Linked DNA regions of Homo sapiens. The protein of the gene in region 2 purifies or fractionates together with the protein of the main gene of each other region. This does not show direct contact. Each region holds a gene or a part of one and is shown on either strand. Other genes may lie near its edges. The genes, in order: METTL5, NTF3, KCTD18, ITIH3 and CA1.

Region 1 (6,445 bases), on a different chromosome or scaffold from region 2:
TCTTCACAGGGACAGATATGGCTTTTCTAAAGACTGCTTTGGAAATGGCAAGAACAGCAGTATATTCCTTACACAAATCCTCAACTAGAGAAGTAAGTTCAAATCATCTGATATTCTGTGGCATTGATTTTTAAATTCATGACAGTGTTTTTAGGATTTGCTGTGAATACTAGATACCACAGTATCTATTTCTCCTGACCATTTTGACATGTGAAACTTAAATTTTCCACTTAACCAGCTAGCATCTGATTGGCCTTTTTCCAGGCTATAAGACTTATTTCCTCAAAGATTTTTTTCAGACAGGAACTGTTGCCAGAGGAGAGACTATAACTCAGGAGTAGAAAAGTGTGTTGTAACTAGGATTACTGTATGTTTTGGTTTCTCTGAGTAAGTCTTAGTTGATCCCTTTTGTCCCATTGTCCCGGTGTGGCCTGATGTACTTAAGGGAGGCAGTAAGGCCAGGTTTTCAGAACACTTGAGCCTGGAGCTAAACAGATCTGAGTTCAGAAATCACCTATTCTTACTTTTGCAGCATATAACACATGGAGAGGTGTATAAGTTGTAGTCCAGGAAACTGGGGGAAGGGGCAGTACATTTTTTTAGTGTCAGTATAACACAATAGTTAGGAACAGAGATTCTGAAGCCAGACCAGATTCTCTGGGTTCAGATCCAAGTTCTGCTGCCTCCCAGCTGTTTTCTTGGTCAAGGTAATTGAGTTTCATCATCAAGGTAATTGAGCTTTTGTCATCTATACTATCCTCACCTGTACTCTAAGTGTAAGGGACTGAGAGTACCAATTGTACTTCATAAGAATTGTGAGGATTACATGAGTTAATATTTACAAAGCACTTAGATCAGTGTCTGACATGTGTAATTGCTATGTGTTAGCTATTATTATTTAAATCATACATGTATTCAAAGATTTTAAAGTGCTTTTGTAGGAAAAATACTTAATTCATGTAAATACAGTACGTAAGAACCCAGTTGGAAATAATACATTCTAGTTACATGGTAATGTGATAACCTTTTAAAAAGCATAAAATATAACAGCTAAAAAGAACTATACTGCTAATAATAAGTAGTGGTACATGTAGGCAAGCAACAGGACACAACATAGCTAGTAAATAAATCCTCACTCACTATATATGAAAGCAAACACCAGTAAACATTGGTATCCAAACCTGTGTCCCCAAGAACACCCTCAGGTTTGATGATTCACTAGGAAATCTCACAGGACTCAGCATCTAGTCTTATTCATGGCTATGATGTATTACAGTGAAAGGATATAGAGCAAAATCAGCAAGGAGAAAGGTGCATTAGGCAGAGAATGGGGTAAACCAGGGCCAGGCTTCTGGAGTCTTCTGCCAGTAGAATAACACAGGACACAATTAATTTTCCCAGCATGAATTATTGATAACACATGTGAAACATTGCCAACCAGGGAAGCTCATTAGAGACTCAGTGCCCAGGGCTTTTATTAGGGACTGATCATGTAGGCAATTCCCTTTCTGACACATACCCAAATTCTAGACTCCCAGTAGGAAAACAGGTGTTCAGCATAAACAGTGTTAGGCACAGTCAGTCACTATTATTAAGGGAGTAGGGAGTGGGAGGCTTCCCAAAATCTAAGTTCCCAGTCTCCAGACAAGGGCCAAACTAAGCAGGCCTTTCTAAGGATAAGCAGCCAGGCCTGCTGTGAACTCTTTTCTGCACAGCTTGGCATAACATGAATTTTTTTTTTAATTATACTTTAAGTTCTAGGGTACATGTGCACAACATGCAGGTTACATACGTAGACATGTGCCATGTTGGTTTGCTGCACCCATCAACTTGTCATTTACATTAGGTATTTCTCCTAATGCTATCTCTCCGCCAGCCCCCCACCCCCCAACAGGCCCCCGTGTGTTATGTTCCCCTCCCTGTGTCCATGTGTTCTCGTTGTTCAACTCCCACTTATGAGTGAGAACATGCGGTGTTTGGTTTTCTGTCCTTGTGATAGTTTGCTGAGAATGATGGTTTCCAGCTTCATCCCATGAACTCATCCTTTTTTATGGCTGCATAGTATTCCATGGTGTATATGTGCCACATTTTCTTTATCCAGTCTATTATCGATGGACATTTGAGTTGGTTCCAAGTCTTTGCTATTGTGAATAGTGCCGCAGTAAACATACATGTGCATGTGTCTTTATAGCAGCATGATTTATAACCCTTTGGGTATATACCCAGTCATGGGATGGCTGGGTCAAATGGTATTTCTAGTTCTAGATCGTTGAAGAATCTCCACACTGTCTTCCACAATGGTTGAACTAATTTACACTCCTAACAGTGTAAAAGCATTCCTATTTCTCCACATCCTCTCCAGCATCTGTTGTTTCCTGACTTTTTAATGATTGCCATTCTAACTGGTATGAGATGGTATCTCATTGTGGTTTTGATTTGCATTTCTCTGATGACCACTGATGATGAGCATTTTTTCATATGTCTGTTGGCTGCATAAATGTCTTCTTTTGGGAAGTGTCTGTTCATATCTTTTGCCCACTTTTTTGATGGGTTTTTTTTTCTTGTAAATTTGTTTCAGTTGTTTATAGATTCTGGATATTAGCCCTTTGTCAGATGGATAGATTGCAAAAATGTTCTCCCATTCTGTAGGCTGCCTGTTCACTTTCATGATAGTTTCTTTTGCTGTGCAGAAGCTCTTTAGTTTAATTAGATCCCATTTATCAATTTTGGCTTTGTTGCCATTGCTTTTGGTGTTTTGGTCATGAAATCTTTGCCCATGCCTATGTCCTGAATGGTATTGCCTAGGTTTTCTTCTAGAGTTTTTAGGTCTTACATTTAGATTTTTAATCCATCTTGAGTTAATTTTCATGTAAGGTGTAAGGAACGGATCCAGTTTCAGTTTTCTGCATATGGCTAGCCAGTTTTCCCAGCACCATTTATTAAATAGGGAATCCTTTTCCCATTGCTTGTTTTTGTCAGGTTTGTCAAAGATCAGATGGTTGTAGATGTGTGGTGTTATTTCTGAGGCCTCTGTTCTGTTCCATTGGTCTATATATCTGTTTTGGTACCAGTACCATGCTATTTTGGTTACTGTAGCTTTGTAGTATAGTTTGAAGTCAGGTAGCATGGTGCTTCCAGCTTTGTTCTTTTTGCTTAGGATTGTCTTGGCTATGTGGGCTCTTTTGGTTCCATATGAAATTTAAAGTAGTTTTTTCCAATTCTGTGAAGAAAGTCAGTGGTCGCTTGATGGTGATAGCATTGAATCTATAAATTACCTTGGGTAGTATGGCCATTTTCATGATACAGTGCTCTACACTTTCGGAGAAACTTCTCTAGTAACGAACTATAGAAATGATCCCTGAAAGTATAGTCTTGGCATAACATGAATTTTATAAAACTCAGTTTTACTGCATGAACTGAATTCCCCATGTACCTATATCTCTGCCAAATGGTTTCTAGGCTAGCTAGCTGTATATATCAATGAAATAATGCTACAGAAACCATATGAGAACATTACACATCTTTGATAGATTTCTGAAATAGTCATGCATCCTTTAACAACAGGGATATGTTCTGACTAATGCATTCTGAGGTGATTTCATCATTGTGCAAACATAGAGTGGACCACCGAGGCTCTGTGGTTATAGTCTGTTGTTCCTAGGCTACAAACCTGTCAACCTATTACTGTATTGAATACTACAGGCAATTGTAACACAATGGTATTCTTTTGATCTAAACATATATAAACACCAAGAAGGTAATGTGTTGTGCTGTGATGTCAAGATAGCTACATCATTAGGCAATAGCAATTTTTCAGCTCCATTTATAATTTTATGGGACTACCAAAATATATGCAGTCCCTAGATAACCCCAAATGGCATTATGTGGTGCATGAGTAGCTTTCTATCACTTGGATTTATTGTGTGATTTGGTTCAGATTGTTAAATGTATTGAAATTGATTTATTATTTTCAGAATACTATCCATTCAATTGAAATTTTTATAAGGGTCTAGATTCTAATGAAATTTTAAGCTTAAAAACTCAATCTCAAGTATTAGTAAAAAGCAATTTTAAAAAATCATTATTTAAAAATCAGCTCATAACAACATATTATTTATGTTCAGCATGTTCAAAAGAAAGCTGCAGAATGGAAAATCAAGATAGATATTATAGCAGGTAAGACAAATCTCAATCCTAATATCCAAAAGGGCCAACATGTATTCGCCCAACCAAAATTTTCATGCAGGTGCTGAGAAGATAAACTATGCTTTACAGTGTGGCAAAATGTGCATGATTGGTAATAGATTGGAAATGGAGTAAAAGCAGAATGAACACTTAGCCTGAGACTGTCCTAATTTATGCGATTTACTGAAAATTTCTAATAGCACTCAGGTATTTGGTCACTCCAGACTCAGGCAGAACACTGTATAGCAGCACAATGGCTAAAAACATGGGCTGGGGGCCAGGTGTGGTGGCTCACGCCTGTAATCCTAGCACTTTGGGAGGCCAAGGTGGGCAGATCACCTGAGGTTTGGAGCTCAAGACCAGCCTGGCCAACATGGTGAAACCCCATCTCTACTAAAAATATAAAAAATTAGCCAGGCATGGTGGCGCACACGTGTAATCTCAGCTACTTGGGAGACTGAGGCGGGAGAATCGCTTGAGTCCCAGAGGCAGAGGTTGCAGTGAGCCGAGATCGCACCACTGTTCTTCAGCCTGGATGACAGAGGAGACTCAGTCTCAAAAAAACAAAAACAAACAAATGAAAAAAAAAAGTGGGCCGGGCGCGGTAGCTCACGCCTGTAATCCCAGCACTTTGGGAGGCTGAGGCAGGCGGATCACGAGGTCAGGAAATTGAGACTATCCTGGCTAACATGGTGAAACCCCGTCTCTACTAAAAATACAAAAAAATTAGCCAGGTGTGGTGGCAGGCACCTGTAGTCCCAGCTATTCAGGAGGCTGAGGCAGAAGAATGGTGTGAACCTGGGAGGCGGAGCTTGCAGTGAGCTGAGATCGCGCCACTGCTCTCTAGCCTAAGCAACAGAGTGAGATTCCATCTCAAAAAAAAAAAAAAAAGTGGGCTTGGAGTTGGTCAGATCTTGGTTTGAAATTCATTCATAGAAAATGCCACCACATTATTCCTAGATAATCTAATTTCATTTTCTTTTTTCTTTTTTTTTTTTTGAGACAAAGCCTTGCTCTGTTACCCAGGCTGGAGTGCAGTGGCAACCTCCACCTCCCGGGTTCAAGCGATGCTCTTGCCTCAGTCTCCCAAATAGTTGGGACTACAGGCATGCACTACCACGCCCGGCTAATTTTTTAATCTTTAGTAGAGACAGGGTTTCACCACGTTGGCAGGGCTGGTCTTGAACTCCTGACCTCAGTGATCCTCCAGCCTCGGCCTCCCAAAGTGCTGGGATTACAGGTGTGAGCCACTGAGCCCAGCCTCTAATTTCATTCTCTAATTACCCCTGGAATCAAATAACATTTATCTTTTTCTTCTAAATATCTATGAGTAAATCATGTTTGATACATTTTTATTACTAAATTGGGTAATAGTCACAAACATCAAAACAGGAAAAGCATATAACTAGAAGCTAATTATAATCTAAGCCTGAAATAAGAGTGCAATAAGGGAACATGTTTTTTCACAATAATAAACTAACAATGAATTGCCACTGTAGTGTTAAACATACAGCTAGATATATTACTGTTCATAATAATAATGTAATATACACTTCTGTTCGTCTTCCTGTTATTTTCAGTAGGGGTGTTTTTTTGTTGTTTGAGATGGAGTCTCCCTCTGTTGCCCAGGCTGGAGTGCAGCAGCACGATCTTGGCTCACTGCAACCTCCACCTCCTGGGTTCAAGGGATTCTTCTCCTGCCTCAGTCTCCCCAACTAGCTGGGACTACAGGCGCACCACCACGTCCAGCTGTTTTTTTTATTATTATTATTTTTAGTAGAGATGAGGTTTCACAATGTTGGTCAGGCTGGTCTTGAACTCTTCACCTCAGGTCATCCGCCCGCCTTGGCCTCCCAAAGTGCTGGGATTAGAGGTGTGAGCCACCGCGCCCGGCCAGTTTTAGGTATTATATGCAGTACGGAACACCTTAGAACAGTCCCAGTACTATACCAAGCCAGAGGCTTGTTCCTCCAAATGTGGCCCTCAGACCATCAGCATTAAAATCCCTGAGATTTCCTTGTTAGAAATAAAGAATTTCAGGCCGGGCGTGGTGGCTGACACCTGTAATCCCAACACTTTGGGAGGCTGAGGTGGGCAGATCTTGAGGTCAGGAGATCAAGACCATCCTGGCTAACATAGTGAAACCCTGTCTCTACTAAAAAATACCAAAAAATTAGCTGGGTGTGGTGGCAGGCACCTGTAATCCCAGCTACTTGGGAGGCTGAGGCAGGAGAATGGCATGAACCCGGGAGGTGGAGCT
Region 2 (6,445 bases):
AATTCCTTTTTGACATGTCACACAAAGAAAGCTGAAAGGTAGAATGTGGAGGATAAACTCCAACCCCCTCTGCCTTGGGCGCAAACACACAGACTTAGGTATCGTGTTAGGAGGTAAGGGGGTTGGAAAATAATGCAGGCTCCGGTAGACAGTGTTGAAGGGAGATAGAAAGTCTGGGGTATTTCCCCTAGGGAGAGTGTGTGGGATTTTGTGTTGGTGAGGACTGGAGTGTAGCTGGACTTAGAGGGTTTGGTTGTGTGTGAATGGGATATGCTTATCTATGGAGTGAGATTGTGACCATTGAGTGAGTGGTCAGGGAGGGATGGGGATGTTTTTCCAAAGTGTGTGTGTGTGTGTGTGTGTGTGTGTGTGTGTAGGGGAAGGTGGCAAAAGAGCTGGAGTCCTATCCCTCTTTGGTGCCTGGGAGGTGTGTGTTTCTGGGGAGTCTGTCGGATGGGCATCTGTGTGCTTAGCGGGAGACAAGAGCTTGCAGGAACATAGGTGTAGCTAATGCGAAATCTGTGCCTATGAAGGGTGTCAGAGCAGGAGGAGAGGTGCAGCCTGTTGAAGACAGATGGCTTGTGCATGCCTGCACAAACACATGGAGTGGGTGTGGTGTAGGAGGGCGGCTGTGTGTGTGAGGGAAAGGTGGATGCATGTGGAAGGTTGGGCGCCTGAGGATTACCAAAGGGATGTGTGTGGGGGGTGGGGGAAGATTATCTGAGGAGCACGGGGTTTGAACTTCATGAGGGTGCACTGGGAAATTTGGCTGGAATGGCACTGGGGCATGTAGGGGGTAGAAAAGTGTGAGCTCAGATCCTCTTTATGGAAAGACAAAGCATTTGCAGGGAAGGACACCGGGTTGGTGTTGGTGTTTGCCTCCCCCCTCCTTCCTCCCCAGAGAGAAGAGAATTGGAGGAGGCTTAGAATGAGGGATGTACATTTAAGGGGAAAAGTCCTTGTGCATTGGCACTGGGTGGGAACAGGAAGAGATGTGTGCATAAGACTGAAGTAAGTAGAGGAATGCACTATCTGTGCCTGGTGTCAGGGATGCATGTTGTATAATGTTTTGTAATGGGTTTCTTATGTAATAGGAGAATTCACTATCACCAGTTCATATTGATAATCAATTAAAGCTAATGGAGTGCCTACTGGATGCTCAGCCCATTGCTGGGTACTGGGGCATGGCACACTGCCCTGGAAAAATTCCTTCTCCAGGCTCAGTAAAACTGATGCAATTTTGCCAGAAATAGACAGAGCTCGACGCTTGTTGAGGTTTCTTCAAGGTCTATAATTCAGTTTCTAGAGATGTTTATGGATCTTGGGGGCCAAAGGGAAGCTGACTTGAAATATATCTCTGGTTTTGTAAAAAGTGGGGCATAAAGAGAGGGATGATGTAGACTTTTGTGTATTGGGAAGGGAGCTGGACGGTGTTGTTGTTTCTTGTGTGGGGTGTGGGCTGGGAATTGGAGGGTGCTGCACTTCAGGTCAGAATGCAGGTCCAGATCCCTCTAAGGATTGAGTTTCTAAGAGTACACAGAGCCTCCTTCATAGCTGGAATGAGACCTGTTATGTGGAGCTGGAGAATGGTGAAGTCATGATCAAGGAAGAGATGGACTGGGAGTGTTTGTTCATCTTTGATGTTTTCTGGGCTACGAGTGTAAAGCTAACCTGAGTGTGTGTTGGGGGGGTGGGTATGCATGCAGGTGCGTGCACATGCACTTTGGCCTGGAGTAACGTAACTGGGAGAAAACTAGCGAGGTGGATAGGAGGGGTGGATATTCTGGCTCTTGTGAAGGGGGTGCCAGTATGTGTTTTTGCAGGAATTCTGTGTGTCTGGGGAAGGATAAAAATTGTCTTGGATACTCAGATGTGCATCTTTAGCGAAAAAAGGTGTACACAAAAGAAGGGCCGTAGACTTTGGGGAATGAGACAAAGGTGTCGTTGATCGGGTCCATACCCTGAGATGGCTGGTGAGGCAACTGGGTAGGAACAGAGTGAAGGCTGTGCTTTTGTGATGCACACATCTGCCTGTCTGGAGCAGACGATGGGGATCCCCATTTGATTAGGTTCTGACCACCGTTGGGCATATGTTTGGGAGGACTTTATTTGACTCATGACATTTTTGAATTCATGAAGTTACAGCTGTGCCATTTTAAGGGTCTACCTTATTTTTGAGAGGGAAACTCATCTGTGTAAGAGATAGTTTATATAGGGCTTGACTATTGGTCAGAAGATCCGGGGCAGATATTTCTGAGAGCAGGGTGGTGAAGTGCAAGACTGGATTGGGAATGTCTTAGTTCTAGTCCAGTTCTACCACTTGGGAAAAGTGTGACTTTGGGGACATTTTTAATCTCTATAACTCTTCTGTTTCTCTTTTTGTAAAGGGGCAATATAATGACTCAAGGAGAAGGAAAGTTCACTCCTCTTTTCCCCCATCAAAACTTGATGTGTTTAGTTGTATACAGCCATACAAAGATGAAATGTAATTAAATACAGGTGCTAGCACGTATGTAGGTCATTGTGAAAATAGGATCTGGACCCCTTTCTCTTTACAATGCAACTTAATCAGTAATCATGATGCCCACAGCATCTCTACTGCTCACTCATTGTGTAAATAAAACTTTTTATAACTGCCTCAGTTTACTCATCCAGAAGCTGGAGGCAGCCAAACCTAGATTATAGATGATGGAAATCTTTAAGATCTTTGAGCTATTCAGAGGAAAGGTAGTCTAAGAATCAATGTTATTAATGATCAGAGACAGACATTTCTTTATTTTTTAACATCAGCTATGCAGACCACAGCACCAAAAGAAATGTGACGTGGAGAACAGCAAAAATAATAATTGCCCTTGACATAGGCACCATTTGAATAAAAGAAGAGCAAAGTCTAGCCTGCCTGGTAAGAGGAAAGCCTGGGCTTTGGGTCTTTGAAATTCTTTGTGCCCAGTGCAGCAAGTTGGGTACAGCCACTTTCCCCAGAGATGAAGATGGAGTCGTAGAGGGGCATGGAAACACACTGAAACCTCCGATTCCTCCCAGAAGTCAGTACATGCTGTCAACTCCTGGCTCAGAGTCAGGCTCCCATCCTTGAGTTCAGTGGCCATAAATAGTCAGGAGCTAAGCTATTTCCAAGAGGCACTAAACTAATTCTGTTGCTTTTCTTGGCGAGATTGGGCCAATTAAGTTGATTGGAAGAGGTCACTGCTGATGGGTCTCACATTCCCCAGGCGGGACAGGCCAGCAGAGTTTAATTACATAACATTTCCCATGTCTTCACTTCCACTCCCAGATGTATCAGATGTTCAGGCCTCTCCTCTTTCCCTACATTCAGGATGCCTGACGGAGCAGGCGGCTTCTGCTACAAGCTTCTCCAGACCTTTTCCTGAGCAGTTACAGCACTCCCACCCCAACTGGAGGGAATGCAAGTCTGTGCATTGCCTGGAAGTGAGAGAGGGGATGCAGGCTGACACAGAAGATCTTTAGAGCCCACCACCCTGCCTCAAGCCTCACCCGCGGCTGTTTTACTCTTTAACGAGGCAGGCAGTTTCTGGCGTTGGGGATGTTGAACTAATGACCGTTGCTAGGGTTTTAGATTTAGTTTTATTTAAAAATGAGTTTGTTGGAAAAGGACCAAATCTTCTACTGGAGACAAGCCTAAGCCCCGTGTGGTGCTGCTGATAAGGTCTGTGGATGTACTTTGTGCATGGACAGGCATGTGTGGAGTAAGAGGAGAGCACAGGATGTGCGTGCGTGCGTGCTGGGGGACACGTGAGCGTAGGAGATGCCCTGGGTAGATGGGGCATTTGTAGAGCTTATGTTATGGGTGGCAGGTATCTGGATGCTTGGCTCAGATTGGATTGTCATTGGATTGCTTCTTACAGGTGGGACAGCCTGAGAAAAAAGTTGGGGACACCTTCCTTCAGATCATTTTTATATGGGCATGTTGAACCTTGAAGTATGAGGCCAGTGTAGATATTACCTCATTCTTGCCTGGATGGATTTCTAACAAGATTGAGGCTGGACAAAAAAAAAAAAAGTCTTTCAGAGGACTCATTTTAGAACCTGTGAGAACACATGTAGATGGCCCCAGAGCGTTAAAGTATTTTTTGTTGTTGTTAATAGTTTTCCATAACTCAGTCTTTTGTTTTACCTAAAAATACTGAGAGGCTAGAGGTTGCACACACCCCCACATGGTCAGAATGCATTTGCTGTTCATGTCCCCATCTGTGCCATGGTCCTTCTCAAATAGGATTAATTGGGAACTACGGAGAGCTTGCCGCAGCTTTGGTTGTCCTCACAGGACAAACCTATGACTGACCGTGATGTCATTGAAACAGAACAGATTTTGACGTGAAATTTCGTGTGGTCTGTTGTGATTGCTCACTTTTTAGTAACATCTCCAGAGAAGACATTTGTTGAGCCCCATTTTTTTTTGTGGGTTTGTTCAGTCAGAGATTTGTTGGAAGATTTAAGGTTCTCCAACATTCAAGGCCAGAGATTTTGGAGGAAACAGTAGCTAACAAGAGCCCAGGCCAGGGTGACCTTCAGTAGCCTGAGGCAGCAGGTAGCTGCCTGACTTAGAAGTGAAGGACCAGGTTCAGTGACTGGGCTCTGTCACTAATTAGCTGCTACTGTGTGACCCTGGACATTCTCTGTAGGACATGACTTTGCCATCTGTAAATGAAGGGCTTGAATTAGAAGATCTCCCAGTCCCATTCCAGCCCTGTCACTGTAGGATTCCACAGTAGCCACATCCTCCTACCTAATCAGTGCTAATTACCTCACTTGGAGTGCACCCTGGCACGCCCTTAACGAGCTCCTGTTTTTATCTTTGGGGAATGGCTGAGTCAAAGGCAGAAAAGCGTGCAAAAAATTTGCCAGAGTGTTTCCTTTTGGCCAAGAATGCTCTAAACATTGGCTTAGCCTACACAGGGTGTGCAGAGCTGAAAGGGGTGGGATTTGGCTTTCTGGTAGGTCTGATGCTAATCATTCAGCTTCCACGTGAATGTCTTTCAGTGGCAATGTCTCTGACTAAGGTAAGCATCCATCTTTAAGATGATGGATGATGATGATGATGACAGTTAATATTAGAGTACTTACTGGGTGCCAGGCATTTTTACAGCTATTACATGGCATTATCTCAGTACTCAAAATAATCTCATTTACAGATGGGGGTACTGAGGTTATGTGAGGTTAAGGGGTATGCTGATGTTCTTGGCTTTCCAGCCTGAAGTCTGTGGCATCCCAAGCCCATCACCTGCTAGTCAGATTCTGTTTTTTATGTCTGTGATGTCATCCAGATGGGAGCTGGGTCCATCTTCTTCTGCAAAGTTGGTCACCCCATAGGGTAACCTGCTCCCTGCCCCCGGAAGCCTCCTTGTCATGTGCAAGACAAATGTTTAGGTTTTCTAGCCACCTGCTGGCAAGCATGTGTCAGATCTGTCTCAGCCTCCATTGGCCCTCTCCCTTTACTTCTTGTTCTGTTGACAAGGGAACCTGCCCTTACAGAATACGGATATTGATTTAAGCCACAATTGCCTCCTTGTAAACTCTATAAAATTGGAGCTGGACATCTGGTTTTGATCCACACGCCCACGAGAGGTGGTAGGTCCCAGCATTCTTGAGTCCTGGAATTGCACAGAATCAAAGTGAAAAAGAATATGAATGGAGAGCATGAGGTATCTTTAGAATTTGGAAGATGGCTTTCTTTGATAGGCTAGGGAACTCACACCATTTAGACTGGGGCCAAAGTTAAGGTAGGTTTCTTGCTGGGAGGTTGGGGGGCAGGGGTCACTGCTAAAGACTGAGGTCCCCAGGCTGTGTTTGATGCAGAGCAGAGCAGCTGTAGAGCCCTCCAGCTGAGGATTTGCCACTGCACACCATTCTCTGGGCAGTACCAGAAATAGAGAAGCCAAACAGGTTCTTGGGGTGGATGTTGCCCTGTTTGAAGATTGTGACTAAAGGCTCATTCCTTCTTCCTCCACTGATTTCCTCACCATCACTACCACATATACATCATCAAGACAGTTAAGGACAGGTGACTTTGTTCTGTTGCTTAAACATATTTGCATGTACAAATAAATGTTGAACACTAACCTAATGCCTATTAGACCATAGGTACTCAAAAATTATGTATTTACTTTGCTTAAAATAACCTTTCATGTGTAGGGTGATAATTTTTTTCTTCATATGGAGTATATAGCCTTTTAAAAACTGATAGCCAGGTTCTTGCAATTTACTTCCCCCTTCCCTCTGTTTCTAGATCTAAGACCCCAGCATTTAAAAATATCCTTCTCTGGCTCTAAGTGATCCCTCAGGGAGTTTGTTTCAAGTTCTCAATCTGAGATTAGTTTCATCCCACATCTAGAGGACCTGCTTCTAATGGTTCATAAGGTACTTCCACTGGGTTCAAGAGGAAGACACAGCTCTAGAAATCACCTGC
Region 3 (5,250 bases), on a different chromosome or scaffold from region 2:
TTTTGCCTAACTCACTAGCTCAGATTCTTGTTGGAAAAGGTGGTTATCGGGTGGTGATGTCTCATATTTGTACAGTGGTTGCCATTTTCAGAGTAGTTCACAAAGTTCCCCTGATTTGATGTTACAGCAACCCAGTGAAGTAGACAAGGCAAGTGTTACAACCCACCCCCTATACAATACTTATACTGCTCCCTACGACTACTGGGAATAAAGGTACTTGACAGTTTTTGAGTGCTTAGTCTGTGCTAGACCCTGTTCTAAGCACTTTGCATTTATTAACTCATTTAATCATCACAGTGGTCCTTCAAGGTACATACTATTATTGTCATCATTTCACAGCTGAGAAAATTCAGGCCCAGAAAAGTAACTTTCCCAAGGTGACATGAATAGTGAGTGAGAGATGGAGATTGAGACCCACACAGGCTTTGCTGGAGCCTGAGCCCTCACTCTCAGCTGCCCTGAGTATGCATCATAACCTGCTGAATCTTCTCAGCTAATCAGTGGCAAAGCTGGTGGCCAGCTCTTCCTGACCCAGGTCGTGAGCTGTGTTGCTCCCTGGCCCTAGCTCCTCGTGTGAGCGCTTCCTGTTCATGTTGTGCACACCTCTCTTTGCCAAACGGGAGGCATGAACCTCAGACTCTGGCAGGTCTTAGGCGAAACAGTGTTGCTCAGCATTTTGCAGTGGATGGTAGCTGTCTTAATTATGTCTTTTTACCTTCCAGGTGTTAGCTACTGGCGGGTGCCTCATGAGCTGATAGAGTGTTGGACTCTAGAAGAACGGCCTTTACTTGGAAGCCTGCGTCACATGGCTCCAATTCGAAAGAGGTTATCTATGCTGTGTTGTTTATTTGTTTTGTTTTTTTAATCGCTGACATTTTTACTGCCTTTGTGAAGGGAAAATGAATAATAATTCTTGACCTTACTAAGCTTATTAATCACCGATTTGAATATTCTGTCTTACCATCAAAATATAGATCTTGATAAATATAAAGTTACCAAAACTATGTAAAAAGTGGCTATAATTCTTTGTAACTGCATGTGTAACATGTTCTTATTGAGAGAGTGATTCTAAAATTACTAGTGGACACAGTGGGCATGCTGTGGTAAATATTTTTGCTCCACAGAAGTGGAATCCCAGGCTTTACTGGCAATAGTAAAAAAAAAATCTATTTAGACTTAATACTTGAAATTTCTTGTGGCTTATTCTGAGTTCCTTTCTGTTTCCTATTGCCACAAATAGCACTTTTATTAAATGGTATTTTCCTGTGTTCCATGAAATTATTAGCATTAAATTCACTCCACAGCTGTGTCTTTCACTGTGTTTTAAATACATTTAAAATCACATTTTTTTTACAGTGTCTGGGTTTTATTCATGGCCTTCAGATGTTCTGATTTCTTGATCACATGTTCTACAATTTAATTGAATGCCCGTATGGAATTTCAGACTACTTTCTTACATTTGCCCTCTGGGTCTTTCACTGAAATGCGGAGATGCTTATTCAGTTTTTAGTAGTTAACCATCACTTGTCAAAACAGATCTTATTTCTTAAAAGCCATAATTTTATTATCATTTATTTTACCTTTTGAGCCTACAGTTAGCAAATATATTTGAGTCAAGAGCAGTGGTTCTCAACGAGGGGTGATTTTGCCTTCCAGGGGATATTTGACAATGTTTGGCAACATTTTTAGTTGACACACTGTGGGGTGAGAGTTGCTACTGGCATTTAGAAGGTAGAGGCCAAGGGTGCTGCTAAACATCCTACAGTGCACAGGGCAGCCCCCCAGAACAAAGAATTATGTGACCAAAATGGTAATAGTGCCGAGGTTGAGAAACCTCAGTGTGGAGTCTGGTGGAAGATGTAGATGGAAAACATAGCAGGCAGGCAGGAGTGGTTTACGGAGACCCTCCTCTGTGTTAGTTATCTTTCCTCTACAAGTTTACGAAGCATTATTTTTGATGCATCAACAGGATAACGATGATGATGACTGAGAAGCACTTGTAAGGTCCCAAGGAGCCATCTGGTGACCAGGGAAAATGTTCAGTAGGGATTTAGGGTTGAATATATTATATTTGCACTCTTTGCTACAGATGGCAATTTTCAAATAACCACGTTATTATGATCCCATTTCCAAGAATGGGAGTTGAATAAGTTGTAATCGCCTCTAATGACACATTGATGCTATGCAGACTTGCAAGAGAGCAGAGTGAGAGGATTGCAGTCACCTTTCATGCTTGGGGTGGTCCTCAGGAAGTGAAGCTGAAGGAGCAGGCAAGGTTTTGACAATGATTGTTTGACGGTTTTAAGGTCATTTAAAAAAATGTTCCCCCGTAGGCTTTTTATAATGAATGGTAAACTCAGTTCTGGAATCTTTGAAGGTTTGTCCATGACTGTTCTAGCAGTCCCCAAAATGGGTTCCAAAGAATGCAAATTTTACTGGCCATCAAAGGTTTCACTATAGAATGATTGGGAAATACAGATATCTTTAGTATAGGCCTTTCATAATCTTTAATATGTTAACATGAATTTTAAAGCTTCAAGAAGAAAAAAAGATATGCAGCAGTTTATTAGTTTTGCATTGCTATAAAGGACTATCAGGCTGGGTAATTTATAAAGAAAAGAGGTTTATTTTGACTCATGGTTCTGCAGTCTGTACAAGAAGGTTAGGGCCAGCATATGCTTCTGGTGAGGCCTCAGGAAGCTTACAATCATGGCAGAAGGTGAAGGGAAGCAGATATGTCACACGGTGAGAGACAGCAAGAGATGCCAGGCTTTTAAACAGCCAGCTCCCACGTGAACGAATAGAGTGAGAACTCACTCATTACCATGGGAGAGGGCACAAAGCCATTCATGAGGGATCCTCCCCCATGACCCAAACACCTCTGTCAGGCTCCACCTCCAACATTGGGGATCACATTTCAACATGAGCTTCGGGGGGGACATGCAGCCAAACTATATCAAGCAATATTTCTAATATTTATTTGATTGTGAAATCTTTTTTTTTCTTTACTAAATCTCTTTAAACTGCAGTTCTGGGAAAAACAATTTGTGATATTTCTGGTTATCCCGTAGGTCACATCATGATACTTGGGAACAGGGTGATATATTGTATTCTTATGTAAAGTGCCAAATTTTAATTTGCTAGTATTAATATTATGTGTGTGAGTTTACATAATTCGTATTCAAATTAAGACCAATCTTTTGTAAACTTGCTTACTGACCTTGGTGGGAGATGAGAGATGAGGTAGGTGCCCATAAACCTCTTGACTCTTTAATTCTTGACCAAAACCTTTCTGTTAATGCTGAAGGTAAACTTGGGAGATGTTTTCATGAGTTACTAAAACTATACATGTGGAAAATGACACGCTTCTGTATTTCTAGGCGACTGATAACGTTCAATGAAGCGGACGAAAGTGTGAACTATAAGACTGGTCCTAAGCCAGTTAGATTTTTGGGCCCTTCCACAAGTACCCAAATTAAAGTCAAGAACTCGGCCTCAGTCACGGTGTCTCCAGCCAGTGCCATCCAGACGTCGGCTGGGGCGACAGCAAACCGGTTTCAAAGTGGTAGCCGCAGAAAGGCAGCTCAGCGCTCTGCACCTTCCAGAGCCACGGCCCTGGTGGGCACGGGGGCACCTGGGCATCCTCAGGCTTCCCCTGGGGCTGCGAGCGCTGAAAATGGAGGCACGCACTTACCTCCAGCTAAGGTGCTACTCTCCGACAAGAAGCCTACACCCCAGCGGGTGATAAAGCTGAAGAGGACTCCGCTGTGCGCCACCGCGCCTTGCCTGCCCTCCCCCACGGCCACGAGGCAGGCCAACTCCCTCAAGCCGCTTCCCGGCGAAGCTGCCCGTGCCTTGGGAGTGCGGACTGAGAACGGGAAGAACAAGGGAAATTGATGAAAGTGGTGGACTTGAAATTTCCCGTTCATCTCCCAAAGCTTTCAACCCATTCGACGCAAAGAAGTGACACTTTCTTAATGCAGCAGAGGGGAAGCTTAGGTTTATGTTGAGGATTCTGTTCCTGGAATTGTGTGAGCTAGGAATGGAGGAGGGGAGACTTTCAATGGTTAAGGCTCCATTTCTCATTTTCCCAACTTTTATATGATTGTCTATGGGCAGTTTGAATTTCTGGTTTTCAATTTATTTTTTAATGATTAATTCGTATTAAGGCAACAAGACAGTACAACAAATAATCTCTAGAGAGGTCCACTTTGTTGCTGAAGTAAACGTTACTTGTTGCAACCCGAGGATGGGCATGAGGTTTGGCCTTAGGTATTCCTGTCTGGGAAAATGGAGGGGGTGATATTAGTGGTTCCCTGTACTATATCACAGCCAAGAGAGATTAGAGAGAGAAAATGTAGATCAAGGCGAGCTGCCTACAAATTACTCTGTCTCCAAAGGCAACGTGAAAAGAAATGATGGGGAGGAAAAAACCCCATAGATTGAATTAGCACTTTGACTCTCACTTAATTCAACGATTTTCTTTCCTAGATTGGCTTTTCTTACTCTTTTCTGTTAGTAGATTTATTTATAAACACCACAAGAAGATCTCTTGGGATCAGAATTATATAATATCTTTGAAGTAAATTATTAAAATATCCTATTTAATTTGAATAGTGAAGTTTTGAAAATACTTTGAAAAAGAGAAGTAAAAGTTTAACTTTTTAACTAAAGTTAGTATTTGTTTTTCAGAAATGACCACTGAAGATTCATTCTGATTATACAATATGATTTTTATGCATAAAATTTCCATGTAACTTGAATTTAATATTTTTAAACAGAATATTTTGACTAATCCTCTATTTTTTCATGACTATTCAGTTGTGTGTGTTTATTCGTAAATGTTATGTTTTGTAATTGGATCACATATTTCTACTTTCAGTGAGAGTATGCCTTCACTATGTTAAAAAATAAGCTCATAAAACAGGGTACTTTTTATTCAAATGCTTATCATTGTACTTTCATTGCTTTGAAAGAGTAAAGTAAGTATACTCAAAACATTACGTTTTACAAAATCAAATAAAACTTTTCCATAAAAAGTGGTATTTTCTGTGTCTGTACTTTTTAAAGCCGTGGAGCCCTGTAGTAGTTTGAAAACTTATTAGTTTATTTAGGTTATCCATTTTCACTTACAAAATTGCTTTCTTGTGCAGATAAAGTATGAAATAATTAAATCAATTTTGGATAACTATCCATCTACTAGGAACTTTTTAGATAGGCTGCTTACTTTGCTAGAAAAAGTGATTATTT
Region 4 (6,445 bases), on a different chromosome or scaffold from region 2:
AGGCAGAATGGGAGATAGAATGAGGTGGGGCATGTAGGGTGTGAAGAGAGCTCTGGGTTCAGTTCCCCCTGCCCTGCTCTCCTGGTAACCTGGATACCTGCCCCTCTCTGGACCTCAGTTTCCCCATCTATTCAGAGTTTTTCCTACTCTGACATGTGGCTCTGGAGGGTCCTATGTCTGGGGGCCACTCAGGTGTGTGGGGGGCAGGGCACCACTGAACCCCTGGTCTCAGCCCAGAGCCTCCCAGGCCATGCGGCCTTGGTGTTGGCCTTGGCCTGATTCCTGTGTTTGTGTTTGTTTTTGTTTTTTCAGAAACGGAGCCTCCCGGAAGGGGTAAGAACTTTCACCAGGGGGTGGGACCGAGTGGGGCAGGGCAGGATGGAGCTGGTTCCCCAACTGCTGAAGGTGTAGGCTATAACAGCTGACTCCTCACAGCTGGCAAACAGCTTACGGCCCTCTGCCCTGGCAGCCTCCAACAGCGCAGGACTCCTGGGAAAGAGCACCACAGAGTGACGACCCCTCCAACCTCGCAGGATGTAGCCCAAGAGGGCCCCTCACAGGCATCCCTTCCTTCCGCAGACACTTCCTTAGCACTTGCTGGTACCTGGCTCTGTGAAGCGGTCCCTGCCACACCCTCACGAAGCATCTTTATATCCCTAGGGGGAGGGGGCTGGAACACCTCCCTAGAGCCTCTCAAAATTCAACACCCCTATTGGAAAGAGGGTGTTTGGAGACTTCCCTTGGCACAGGAAATCAGTTCCTCTTTGGGAGACAGAATGAGGCAATTACCTAAAGACCCAGGAGGTGGGCTGGGCTGTGTGCTTGAGGGAGTGTGAGGTGTGGAGGATGAGCAGGAAGAGCCAGGGGCAGATGCTCCAGAGCCAGTGTCCCACGCATAGCTGGAGCTCAGGGTGACTGGACGGGAAAGGGCAAGCTCTCACTGGCTGCAGTGGTGTGTAAACGGATCGCAGAATTAAGGAGGCAGGACAAGCATCTGAATAATGGTGGCCACCAGAACATGGAGACTGGAGACGCCACCAAGTCTTCCAGTGTAGAAGACCTGGAGGATGAGGGTTGCGTGCCGGGCAGGGGCCTCAGAGCCTCCAAGGGTTTGCAAGGGAGGTGGCTGGGTTGCAAACCTGCTTCTCCAGTGTCCCAGTCTGGCTGATTCTCCACCCACCTCCCCAAAGGTGGCCAATGGCATCGAGGTCTACAGTACCAAAATCAACTCCAAGGTGACCTCCCGTTTTGCTCACAATGTTGTCACCATGAGAGCCGTCAACCGTGCAGACACGGCCAAGGAGGTTTCCTTTGATGTGGAGCTGCCCAAGACGGCCTTCATCACCAACTTCACCTTGTGGGTACCACCATGGCTGCTGGCTCTGGGCTCGGGAACAGGGGGTCTGGCCCAGTGTGATCTCCCTACCCCCAACTCTCTTTCCCTGCAGGACCATCGACGGTGTTACCTACCCTGGGAATGTCAAGGAGAAGGAAGTTGCCAAGAAGCAGTATGAAAAGGCTGTGTCCCAGGGCAAGACGGCCGGCTTGGTCAAGTAAGTATGGACTCCCAGGCCTTGGGGAGAATGTCTGGGATCCAAGGGCCTTCAGGGCTACAAACAACAACAACAGCTATTATTATTGGTATAGCAAAATGTGCCCATAATTTTGCCATTATCCCACGTTGAGGCTGAGGCAAGTGAGGCTCAGAATGGTTAGGGATCTCCCTCGCCAAAGGGCTGGGCCTGGGGCCGAGGGCCGAGGAAGGGTGGGCTCCTGCAGTCTTTGAGGGAGTCACCATCTCGCACCCTGGTCAGGGCCTCTGGGAGGAAGTTGGAGAAGTTCACAGTCTCGGTCAACGTGGCTGCAGGCAGCAAAGTCACCTTCGAGCTAACCTACGAGGAGCTGCTGAAGAGGCACAAGGGCAAGTACGAGATGTACCTCAAGGTCCAGCCTAAGCAACTGGTCAAACACTTTGAGGTAATCAACCGCCCCTGCAGACCTGGGGGGACGGCAGCGGGGTGCAGGAACCCGCCCATGGGGCAGTCTCAGACAGGGGTCAAAAACAAAAGTTCTGCCTCACGGCATCCCCCATCCTTGGCTGGGAAGGCTGGAGGAATTCAATGGTTCTGGCCAAAAGCATCTGGGGCCAAGGGGAAGAGGCTGGGATGGACTCCACAGATGCAGATTCGGTGCTGGGCCCTCAAGAGCAACACCAGCAAGTGCCTCTGTAAGGCTTCTCACTGGGCACATGGGCATTTTTCCTACCTCAAAGCTGAAAGCCAAAGGAAAAGCATCAGTGGTGGAATTTCGGGCGCATATGGCAGGCGGTGGTAACACCTCCCGATCAGCATACTCTCCTCCAAGCCCCTGTGGTCACTTTCGCAGTGGGAGACACCAGGCTTGGCCCTCAGCACTGTCCTAGAGGGTCCCTGCATCACCACAGACCCATCTCATTCCCATTGGCCTTGTTCTGGGAACTGGCCTCTGAGGTCACTGAGTGACATTTCCTTACTTTGGCCATTTCAGATCGAGGTAGACATCTTCGAGCCTCAGGGAATCAGCATGCTGGATGCTGAGGCCTCTTTCATCACCAACGACCTCCTGGGAAGCGCCCTCACCAAGTCCTTCTCAGGGAAAAAGGTGATGTAGATGCCTCTCAGACCTGGTGGGGCAGGGGACAGGAATACTGACTCCAGCAGAACAAGCCTGCAGCCTAGGGCTTAGCTGCTGCAAGCATGCATGTGTTGGGGTGGGGCTGGGGATCAATCTGCAACTATCACCTTCCTCCTTGCCCACTGGGGTTGGGAGTGAGGATGCTGAGGGCAGGGGCTGCTGACAATGACCTGCCAGAGGAGCCATTTACAAAGCCTGGTCCCGTTCCCCCTTGGGAAATGGACAGGGCAGGGCTTATCTTCCCTGTTTTACAGGTCCCGAGGCTGAAGCCCAAGGGAGTCATTTAGATCTACTGACTCCACAATGAGAGGTGAAAGACTAAAGAGAACTTCATTCTTGGTGCTAGGTGGTTGACTCCAGTCCCCAAGGCTCCCAGCTGTTCCAGGGGCCTTAATGGCAGTGGACAGTGGGTGAATAAATGTTTGTATAAACAACAAACCAATCATCCAGGACTTCCAGGGCGAGGCCCGAGGAGCACACACTCAGAGGACTGCTGGCTTCTGCAGGGCCACATCCTGCCCCGGGACCCTCCTCCTCCCCTTTCTCCTCCTTTCTCCCTCCCCTCCTCTTGGCACCCACACACCAACATTCCAAACCTACAAGAAATTCCTTTTAATGGGAAGCTACCCCTTCCCTAAGTAGCTTCTCAGTGCTGAGCTCCAAGGTAGCCTGGGCTAATGGGTGTGTGAGGCCAAGAAAAAGGGAGCTGGAAGCTGAATCAGCCAAGGCCTGTGCCCAGCCAGGAGCCCTGATCTCCAAGGGGAAAAGCGGTGCTCAGAAAGGCCGGAGCGTGGTAAACAGTGCCTTCCAGTGAGTCCTGGGAGCTGCAGAGCACGCCACCGGCGGGCAGGGCTGCCCAGGCCTCCAGCTCTTGCTAGCCTCTGCCCTGCCAAGGGCTCCTCCCTGTGAGGCTGCACCTCTGCTCCCTCAGCTAAGGGCTGAGGTCTCCCAGTGGGCAGGCCCTGGCCGAGCTGAGCAAGGTCTTTCATCTCCATCCCTTAGGGCCATGTGTCCTTCAAGCCCAGCTTAGACCAACAGCGTTCATGCCCAACCTGTACAGACTCCCTCCTCAATGGAGATTTCACTATCACCTATGACGTGAACAGAGAATCTCCTGGCAACGTGCAGGTACCCGGGCTGGCTGATTCATCATCAGGGTGGGGCGAGGGCTGGTCGGGCGGGGGCTGCAGCTGGATCTAGTGCCATCACCCTGGGTCCTCAGCCCAAGGCTGTTTTCCTGCAGGATGTGGGACAGCTGATGGCCTAGAGCCTGGTGCAGCACCCCCTAGAGGGTGGGATAGGAACGTCTTTTTCTTGGGCTGGTAAATGTCTGGCTTCTACCTGCAAGAATAGTCAATGTGGTGTTGCTAAAAGGACACCGGCCTCCGTCCCTCTCCCCACTTTCCAGATAGTCAATGGCTACTTCGTGCACTTCTTTGCACCTCAAGGCCTTCCAGTGGTGCCTAAGAACGTGGCCTTTGTGATTGACATCAGCGGCTCCATGGCTGGTCGGAAATTAGAGCAGGTAATCAGCACCAGTGGCACAGCCAGGGCTCGGGGTAGTAGGGGGTGGAAGAGATTTTTTTTTTTAACTGGAAAAAGCTGATCTTTGTGGTGAATGAGGAGAAAGGGGACAGGATAAGAGAAGGCTCACGGCCTCTGCCCGCTTCTGTGGCAAGCCTCAGGCAGGGCTCGCTGGTGCAGATGGCGTGGGCTGCACCGCCTGCTGAGCTGAGAAGGGACCTCACTCTCTGCTGCGGCTTCTCCCAGCTCTTTGTCTCTCCTCCAGACAAAGGAGGCCCTTCTCAGAATCCTGGAAGATATGCAAGAGGAAGACTATCTGAATTTCATCCTGTTCAGTGGAGATGTGTCCACATGGAAAGAGCACTTAGTCCAGGCCACGCCCGAGAACCTCCAGGAGGCCAGGACGTTTGTGAAGAGCATGGAGGATAAAGGAAGTAAGAGCGGAGCTGGAGCCCACACACCTCCTAGCGGTGCCTCCCTCTGTCCCTGAGCAGCCTGCAACCCCCCTCTTAGGGACTCTGCTGGTCTCAGGCCCTCTTCAGATCTGAGCTGGGGTAGAGGTGGGAGTGGATGGTCCTCAGGCTTGAAGACAGAATATCGGCTGTCTTCTCCGTGGTCCAGGGAAACCCATTCTTTCTGTTTCTAATCCATGATCCTGGTATCTCACAAGTCCCAGCAAGATAAGGCCACAGAGAACCCTTCTTCTTGGCCCTGTTTCATATGGAAAATGGCACGATGTCTACACTGCTCCCCTCTCCTCCCAGCAAGAGGTACTGGGAGTCCATCCAACTCTGCCAAAGGGCTTTCACAATCACCATGTGCTTTTCGTCTTCACCATGTGCCTTTCATCCCCATTTGAAAGTGGAAGTTGTTTGTTTGTTTGTTCATGTGGTGGTTCATTCATTGTTTGCTGAGTACCACCATGGGCTGGCAGATAGGGTCCTTGGGCACATGAGTGGGGCCGGCTGTCCCGGCCTCCTCCGCTCCAGCCTGTCTGCACACTGGCACCCTGAGGACACCCTCCCACGGTGCTGTCTGTCTGTGTCCCAGTGACCAACATCAATGACGGGCTGCTGAGGGGCATCAGTATGCTGAACAAGGCCCGAGAGGAGCACAGAATCCCAGAGAGGAGCACCTCCATTGTCATCATGCTGACTGATGGGGATGCCAATGTTGGTGAGGAGCACGGGCATGGTTTTGAGCTAGGGCTGGAGTGCTTGGCTGCTGCTCCTGGCTCTGTAGCTGGCTCATTGGAAAACCTGGGGCAGCTCTTCCCTGGGTTCCCTGTGGTCTGGGAGCCCCTCAAGGGCAGGGTCCTGCCTCCCTCTGCCAGGGCTCTCCACCACCTGCCCCACAAGGGCTCATGGTCGTGACTCCAGCAACTCTGCATGTGCAGGAGTCCGGTCTCCCCAGACAGAGCTGGTCTAGACCATCCCCAGGGCTGGGGCTGGACTGTGAACACCCCCTTCTCCAACAGGTGAGAGCAGACCCGAAAAAATCCAAGAGAATGTGCGGAATGCCATCGGGGGCAAGTTCCCCTTGTATAACCTGGGCTTTGGCAACAATCTGAATTATAACTTCCTGGAGAACATGGCCCTGGAGAACCATGGGTTTGCCCGGCGCATTTATGAGGACTCTGATGCCGATTTGCAGTTGCAGGTATGCCTTGTCTTGCACACTTCCGGGCATAAGGAGCTCACTACTTCCTCAGACAGCTGCTCCATAAGGTGACAGTTCTAGTTATTAGGAAGAGCTTCGTCTTGGGTCAAAATCCACCTCTGACTATCTCTTACCCATCAGTAAAGATTCTGATTTTGTCCTTGGGCTACACAACAGGCCCGTTTCTTCAACAGGATTATCAGAGCAAACACAGGACATCTGGTTCAATATGAATTTCTGATAAATAATGAATTTTTGTAGTGTAAGTATGCCCCAAATATTGCACAGGACATTGTATTAGTGTATGGCGGCTGCCATACCAAAGTACCAAGTGGCTTCAATGAGAGAAACGTATTGTCTCCCAGTTCCAGAGCCCGGACATCCCAGATCCATGTGGCGGTGGGTTGGTTCCTTCTGAGGGCTATGAGGGCAGATCTTTCTAGGCCTCTTTCCTTTTCTCCATGGCTTATCAATGGCTGTCTTCTCCCTGTGTCTGCACATGTCTTCCCTCTGGATGTCTGTGTCCAACTCCCCTTTTAATAAGGACATCAATCATATTGGATTAGGGCCCATACTCATGACCTTATTT
Region 5 (6,445 bases), on a different chromosome or scaffold from region 2:
CACCATGCCTGGCCAATTTTTTTGTATTTTTAGTAGAGATGGGGTTTCATCATGTTGTCCAGGCTTGTCTCGAACTCCTGACTTCAAGTGATCCACCTGCCTTGGTCTCCCAAAGTGCTGGGATTACAAGCATGAGCCACTGCACCCGGCCCCTTTTCTATATTGTACTATAAAATAGTGTATTTGTCAATACTACTAATATAGATCTATACTCATAGTCTATAGAATCAGACCATACATATTTTATTATTAGCAATAGATTTCTAATACAAGCTTAACTCATTTTATTGCGCTTCACTTTATTGTTCTTTGCAGATATTGCATTTTTTACAAACTGAAGATTTGTAGCAACCTTGCATCAAGCAAGCTTATTAGGGGCATATTTTCAACAGCATGTGTTTATTTCACGTCTCTGTGTCACATTTTGGTAATTCTCACAATATTTTAAACTTTTTAATTGTTCATATATCTATCATGGAGATCTTTGATGTTACTATTATAATAGTGTTGTGGCACCATAAACCATGTCCAAGTAAGATGATGAACTTAATCTGTAAATGTTGTGTGTGTTTTAACTACTTTACTGACTGGCTATTCCCCATCTATCTCCCTCTCTGTAAGTCTGCCTATTCCCTGAGACAAGAATATTGAAATTAATCTGTTTAATAACCCTACAATGACCTGTAAGTACTCCAGTGAGAGGAAGAGTCACATGTTTCTCACTTTAAATCAAAAGCTAGAAATGATTAAGCTCAGTGAAGAAGGCATGTCAAGAGTTGAGACAGGCCAAAAACTAGACCTCTTGTGCCAGTTAGTCAAGCCGTGAATGCAAAAGAAAAGTTCTTGGAGAAAATTAAAGGTGCTACACCAGTGCACACACAAATGATAAGAAAGCAAAGCAGCATTATTGCTGATATGGAGAAAGTTTGCATAGTCTGGATAGAAGATCAAAAACCAACAACCACATTCCCTTAAGCCGAATCCTAATGAGAGCAAGGCTATAGCTCTTTTTAATTCTGTGAAGCCTGAGAAAGGCAAAGAAGCTGCAGAAGAAAAGTTAGAAGCTAGTCGAGGTTGGTTTATGAGATTTAAAGAAAGATGCCATCTCCATAACATGAAAGTGTGAGGTGATGTGGCAAGTGCTGATACAGAAGCCGCAGACAGTTATACAGAAGATCTAGCTAAGATAACCAATGAAGGTGACTACACTAAACAACAGATTTTCAGAGCAGACAAAACAGCCTTCTTTTGGAAGGAGATAGCATCTAGGACTTTCATAGCTAGAGAGGAGAAGTCAATGCATGGTTTCAAAGTTTTAAAAACAGCCTGACTCTTTTGTTAGGGTCAAATGCAACTGTTGACTTTAAGTTGAAGCCAACACTCATTTAACATTCTGAAAATCCTAGGACCCTTAAGAATTATACTCAATCTACTCTGCCTGTGCTCTGTAAAAGGAACAACAAAGCCTGAATGACAGCACATCTATTTACAGCCTGGTTTACTGACTATTTTCAAGCCCACTGTTGAGCTCTACTCCTCAGTAAAAGAAGATTCCTTTCAAAATATCACTGCTCATTGACAGTGCACCTGGTCACCCAGGAGCTCTGATGGAGATGTACAAGGAGATTGATGTTATGCTTATGCCTGCTAACACAGCATCTATTCTGCAGTCTATGGATCAAGGAGTAATTTCAACTTTCAAATCTTATTTAAGAATACACTTTGTAAGGCTGTAGTTCCCATAGATAATAATTTTTTTTATGATGGATCTGAGTAAAGGAAATGGAAGTTGTCTGGAAAGGATTCACCATTCTGCATGAACATTTGTAATTCATGGGAGAAGGTCAAGTTATCAACATTAACAGGAGTTTGAAAGAAGTTAATTCCAAAGTCATGGATAACTTTGAGCCTTCCCAACCTTCAGCAACCACTATCCTGATCAGTCAGCAGTCATCCACACTGAGGCAAGACCCTCCACCATCAAAAAGATTAATACTTGGCTGGGCGTGGTGGCTCATGCCTGTAATCCCAGCACGTTGGGAGGCCAAGGAGGGCAGATCATGAGGTTGGGAGATCAAGACCATCCTGGCTAACACGGTGGAACCCCATCTCTACTAAAAATACAAAAAAATTAGCTAGGCGTGGTGGTGGGCACCTGTAGTCCCAGCTACTCGGGAGGCTGAGGCAGGAGAATCACTTGAACCTGGGAGGCAGAGATTGCAGTGAGCCTAGATCATGCCATTGCACTCTAGCTGGGCGACAGAGAGGACTCTGTGTCAAAGAAAAAAAAATTAATACTTCTGAAGGCTCAGGTGATCACTAGCATACTTTAGCAATAAAGTATTTTTAATTAAGGTATGTAGATTTTTTAAACATGCTATTGCACACTTAATAGACAACAGCATAGTGTAAACATAACTTGTAAATGCCATGGAAAACTCCAAATTTTATGTGACTTGCTTTCTTGTGATATTTGCTTAATGATAGGGGTCTGAAACTGAACCTTCAGTATCTCTGAGGTATGCCTGTATATATATATATCAAACATATTTTGTAGTCAGCCATGCCCCAAAAGACAATGCTAAGAATACATGCAAAGATAGTATAATTATTTAAAGCAGACAGTTCAACAATTAACCTATAGCTGTACAATTATTTTAAATACTTAATATCTTTTCTGTTGGAAATGGGAACAAGTTATCATTTTGATCTATATAAACAGGAGAACTCTTACCATTTTTGTCATCATATCCCCAGTCTGGACTTGCCATTATCTTCTACTGAGTTTTCTTTTTCTGAAAACAAAAATAATACCTGGAATAACTAACTGCAACTGTGCATGCAGGAGATGCCTTAAATCCCTGCTTGGGCGTTTTTATAGAAACTTACTTGCTTTTAATAGGCCATTATTTCATCATCTCTGCTTATCAGGAAGTACACATATCTAAAAAAAAGGTGTTGTAAAAAATTCTACAAGGGCTATGTTAGTTTCAATTGCTTAATTTTCTTATATTGTAAAAGAGAATTATCAGATCCTAGATTTTATAAAGCCAAGTCCTGTTTCACTCATGTTAGTAGAAGATATGGCTTAATATTATAATATGTAATTCTTTAGATTTTCTAAATGAAAAATACTTTGTACACTCAAGATTTCCAACTCTACCTTTGTTAGTTACCTAAGCAATATATGCAAAAGTAATTTATCAGGAAAATAATTTGTGTGTTTACAGGCTGATCTGAACTAGTATCTTAATGTTAATTTAAAATCAGATAATTAAATTACTAATCATTTGTAATATATGTTATTTATAATGATACATTTTATAGATATACAGGGTAAGAATAAAGTCCATTTTGGAGCAATATTGGAATTCATAAATGGAGAAGATTTTATTAATATTAAAGTTAAATATAACACAATATTTATTTTATACATCAAATAGGTCTACAAGAATAAAGGTCTTATTTTTTAATAGCTCTATATAATTTATAAACCAGTTTCTTATTATTTTATTTCACCATCACACATACATACAAATGCTATATAGTAAGAATTAGCATTTGTAATTGAGAGATGTTGAGGTACTTTGCCACAACTGGCAACAAGCCAAGAAGCCAAGACTTCAGCCTCCTAATCCAGTTCCCTTCTTCACTGTACCTCCACCAAATGCCACACTAATTCCCCTCCTATGCTCACAATACTCTTAAGTGCAAGTTAAGCCTGGACCAAGATGAGAACTGATGCCAACTGAATGATGAGAAGGTACACAGGACTTTTCAGGATGGCAAAGAAAACTGATTAGGATGTGCCAGACTCTGGCCAGTTCTACATGTTCAAAGCTCTAAACATGCTCAAAGAAAAGAAAACCGGAAAAATAAGCTACCATAGTGATGCTTTTTTCATGCCATGACAGTCATTCCTCCTTTCACATGGTAAGGATTGTCTGAGCTGCTGCAACCCCTGAAAGAAGAGAGGGATCAGGAGCAATTTTCACTAAGGCTGACTGGAGACACGTTGTTTGCTCCTTTGCAGTTAGTGATGGTTCGTTGTCTCATATGCAGAGTGGGCTGTGGTCATGAACATTCACAGAGTGGGAAGAGGCCCAAGCTCCCATTCTATGGCTTTAGTAAGCATAAGAAGATATTGCTTAAAAGAGAATTCTTTTTTTTTTTCCAAAGTACTGTTTATTGAAGGCCCAACAGGGATCAACTGCTGTGCTAAAAACTTTACGTACATTAACTTATTTAATTCTTATTATAACAAAATTGGGCATTAAAATCTGTGTTTTAGGCTGAGGTGGGAGGATCTCTTGCACCTAGGAGGTCCAGACCAGCTTGGGCCACATAGTGATACTCTGTTTCTGGAAAAAGAAAAAAATTGTGTTTTACATTAAAAAAATATTGAGGCTTACAGAGGTGAAGACACCTCCTCAGAGTTACAAAACTTGCAAGTGGCTGCTTATATCCCATAAGCCTAGGGTTTAAACCTAGATCTGTGTAATTCCAAAGCTAATACATTTGCTTAGCCTTCCACTGTCAACAATTGTCCACTGACCTCCAGTTGATTCTATTTTCTGGAGGATTGGATTAGGTGATGTAGCTTGGTTTGGCTCAAGATGACCAAGAGTCAGGCTTCATCCTTGGGCTTACTTCACTCCGGAAGCTCATGGAGTGACAGGAGCAGGCTACCCCCTGCCAGGTAATTTGCCTCCTAATATTGTATACTTTGTAAAAAGCAACTTTAGCTTGAACTACTCTATTAATCAACAAATTTGAAAAACAGCAACCCCCTTTCATTACACGACTATGTGATGATTTGTCACATGAATGCTTTAACATCCATATGGAATGGCAATTTATTTAAAGTTTTAGGCACAGAATGACACTGGACCCTAACTATTATCACCTTTTATTTCATTATGTACCCAGGGTGTGTTATTGTACTGGCAGAAAATTATATAGAGAAAGGATATAAAGTTTAATGAGCCTTTATAAGTCCAAACACCCTTCCCATTTACCTTTATCCTTCTTTTTCTGCTTACAAATTTTGCTTCTCTCAGCTGAATCTATGCCAAATTCAAGATGTTTAGTTTTGTATTCACTTCACTTTCACCAACAGTTTCCTCCCAGTATACTTTTCCAGGATGATCTTTGGGTTACTTTTGCCTACCAAGAAGGAGTTTAATCTACACAGACTCTGCTCTTCTAAACTAAAAGTATATATATATATATATACTTTTAAATTTTATATATATAAAATTTAAATTTATATATATAATTATATATTATATACTGTATATTATATACTGTATATAATATATAATTATATATTATACAGTATATAATATAATTATATTATATACAGTATATAATATATAATTATATATTATATACAGTATATAATATATAATTATATATTATATACAGTATATAATATAATTATATATTATACAGTATATAATATATAATTTGAATTTATACATATATTATGTATATTAGATTATTACATTTATTTATTAACACCAATTAATTTCTAAATTAAATGGTACTAAATTTAGGGTACTAAATATTTTTTAGTACCCTAAAATGTTTTTCAAAAAAGCATTTCTTCAGTGTTTTTAAGTATCTATTTAAATCAGTTTTAAATTATATTTAAGAGCCTTAGTATTTCTTATTTTAACTTTTGTTCTTCTAGTTCCTTTGATACTTTTCATCTAATTTTTATTTTAATATTTTAAAATCAAAAACATGAACTCTTCTGGAAGCAAATAAATTATGGTGAGTTTCAAATTTAAATTTGTACTTAGAAAATAACTCTCTGCTATAAAAGGAACAAAAAGTGAAAAAGAGTGCCATCCGTGCCTAGTTATGGACGAGATCTGCTAAATGCCACTGAAAGGAAAAATCCACACCTTGGCAGGACCAAATTCCAAAAAGCCAGAGCTGCTCTACAATGCTTAGAGTTCCACAACAATAAGTGGCTTTCCTGGGATTCATATTTTCCCTAAAATGAGGAAATATATATTGTGAAAATAATGTCATTGTTGACTATTAAATTTGGCCTGACTCTCACATTGCCTCCTAAATTCCCTGCCCCTCTAGAGATGGTATCATTTGGGGTGGCAAGATAAATCTTATTTCCAGTGGAGAAGTGGGTCATGGAAAATGGTGATATTAGCCTGGACATTTCTGCATTGAGACAACTAGAAATTCTGATTAATCAACTGAAGTGGCAGGATGGGTTATCTGGATTTCACAGCTATCATTTTCTCTCAGTTGGGCTTTCTCATCACCTGTAACAAAGCTGTGTTGGTAACTTTATTCCTTCCAATGTTTGTATTTGTCTCCATCCATACCGAGCTTGTTCCCATTTTAGGACCTTTGTGCTTGCTGTCCTGCTGTCCAGATTGCTCTGTACCCAGACCTTTGTATAGCCTCAAATATC

Evidence for each region.
Region 1: the proteins of NTF3 (region 2) and METTL5 purify together in Homo sapiens (affinity purification with mass spectrometry; one large-scale study listed by BioGRID and IntAct). This does not show direct contact.
Region 3: the proteins of NTF3 (region 2) and KCTD18 purify together in Homo sapiens (affinity purification with mass spectrometry; one large-scale study listed by BioGRID and IntAct). This does not show direct contact.
Region 4: the proteins of NTF3 (region 2) and ITIH3 purify together in Homo sapiens (affinity purification with mass spectrometry, with the first as the bait; one large-scale study listed by BioGRID). This does not show direct contact.
Region 5: the proteins of NTF3 (region 2) and CA1 purify together in Homo sapiens (affinity purification with mass spectrometry; one large-scale study listed by BioGRID and IntAct). This does not show direct contact.

The regions. Positions count from the first base shown.
Region 1 is NC_000002.12:169,813,208-169,819,652, reverse strand, and holds part of METTL5 (rRNA N(6)-adenosine-methyltransferase METTL5), read left to right. Parts: intron 1-9; coding exon 10-92; intron 93-3,274; exon of another isoform or gene 3,275-3,374; intron 3,375-4,124; coding exon 4,125-4,176; intron 4,177-6,445. UniProt on the Homo sapiens protein: Catalytic subunit of a heterodimer with TRMT112, which specifically methylates the 6th position of adenine in position 1832 of 18S rRNA.
Region 2 is NC_000012.12:5,434,132-5,440,576, forward strand, and holds part of NTF3 (neurotrophin-3 isoform 1 preproprotein), read left to right. Parts: intron 1-6,445. UniProt on the Homo sapiens protein: Seems to promote the survival of visceral and proprioceptive sensory neurons.
Region 3 is NC_000002.12:200,488,747-200,493,996, reverse strand, and holds the end of KCTD18 (BTB/POZ domain-containing protein KCTD18), read left to right. Parts: intron 1-722; coding exon 723-825; intron 826-3,380; coding exon 3,381-3,897; 3' UTR 3,898-5,039; downstream 5,040-5,250.
Region 4 is NC_000003.12:52,795,291-52,801,735, forward strand, and holds part of ITIH3 (inter-alpha-trypsin inhibitor heavy chain H3 isoform 4 preproprotein), read left to right. Parts: intron 1-312; coding exon 313-333; intron 334-1,190; coding exon 1,191-1,357; intron 1,358-1,448; coding exon 1,449-1,553; intron 1,554-1,814; coding exon 1,815-1,977; intron 1,978-2,526; coding exon 2,527-2,640; intron 2,641-3,675; coding exon 3,676-3,801; intron 3,802-4,081; coding exon 4,082-4,198; intron 4,199-4,462; coding exon 4,463-4,631; intron 4,632-5,247; coding exon 5,248-5,373; intron 5,374-5,674; coding exon 5,675-5,856; intron 5,857-6,445. UniProt on the Homo sapiens protein: May act as a carrier of hyaluronan in serum or as a binding protein between hyaluronan and other matrix protein, including those on cell surfaces in tissues to regulate the localization, synthesis and degradation of hyaluronan which are essential to cells undergoing biological processes.
Region 5 is NC_000008.11:85,338,865-85,345,309, forward strand, and holds part of CA1 (carbonic anhydrase 1), read right to left. Parts: intron 3,962-6,445; exon of another isoform or gene 3,885-3,961; intron 2,851-3,884; exon of another isoform or gene 2,796-2,850; 5' UTR 2,772-2,795; coding exon 2,735-2,771; intron 1-2,734. UniProt on the Homo sapiens protein: Catalyzes the reversible hydration of carbon dioxide. Can hydrate cyanamide to urea.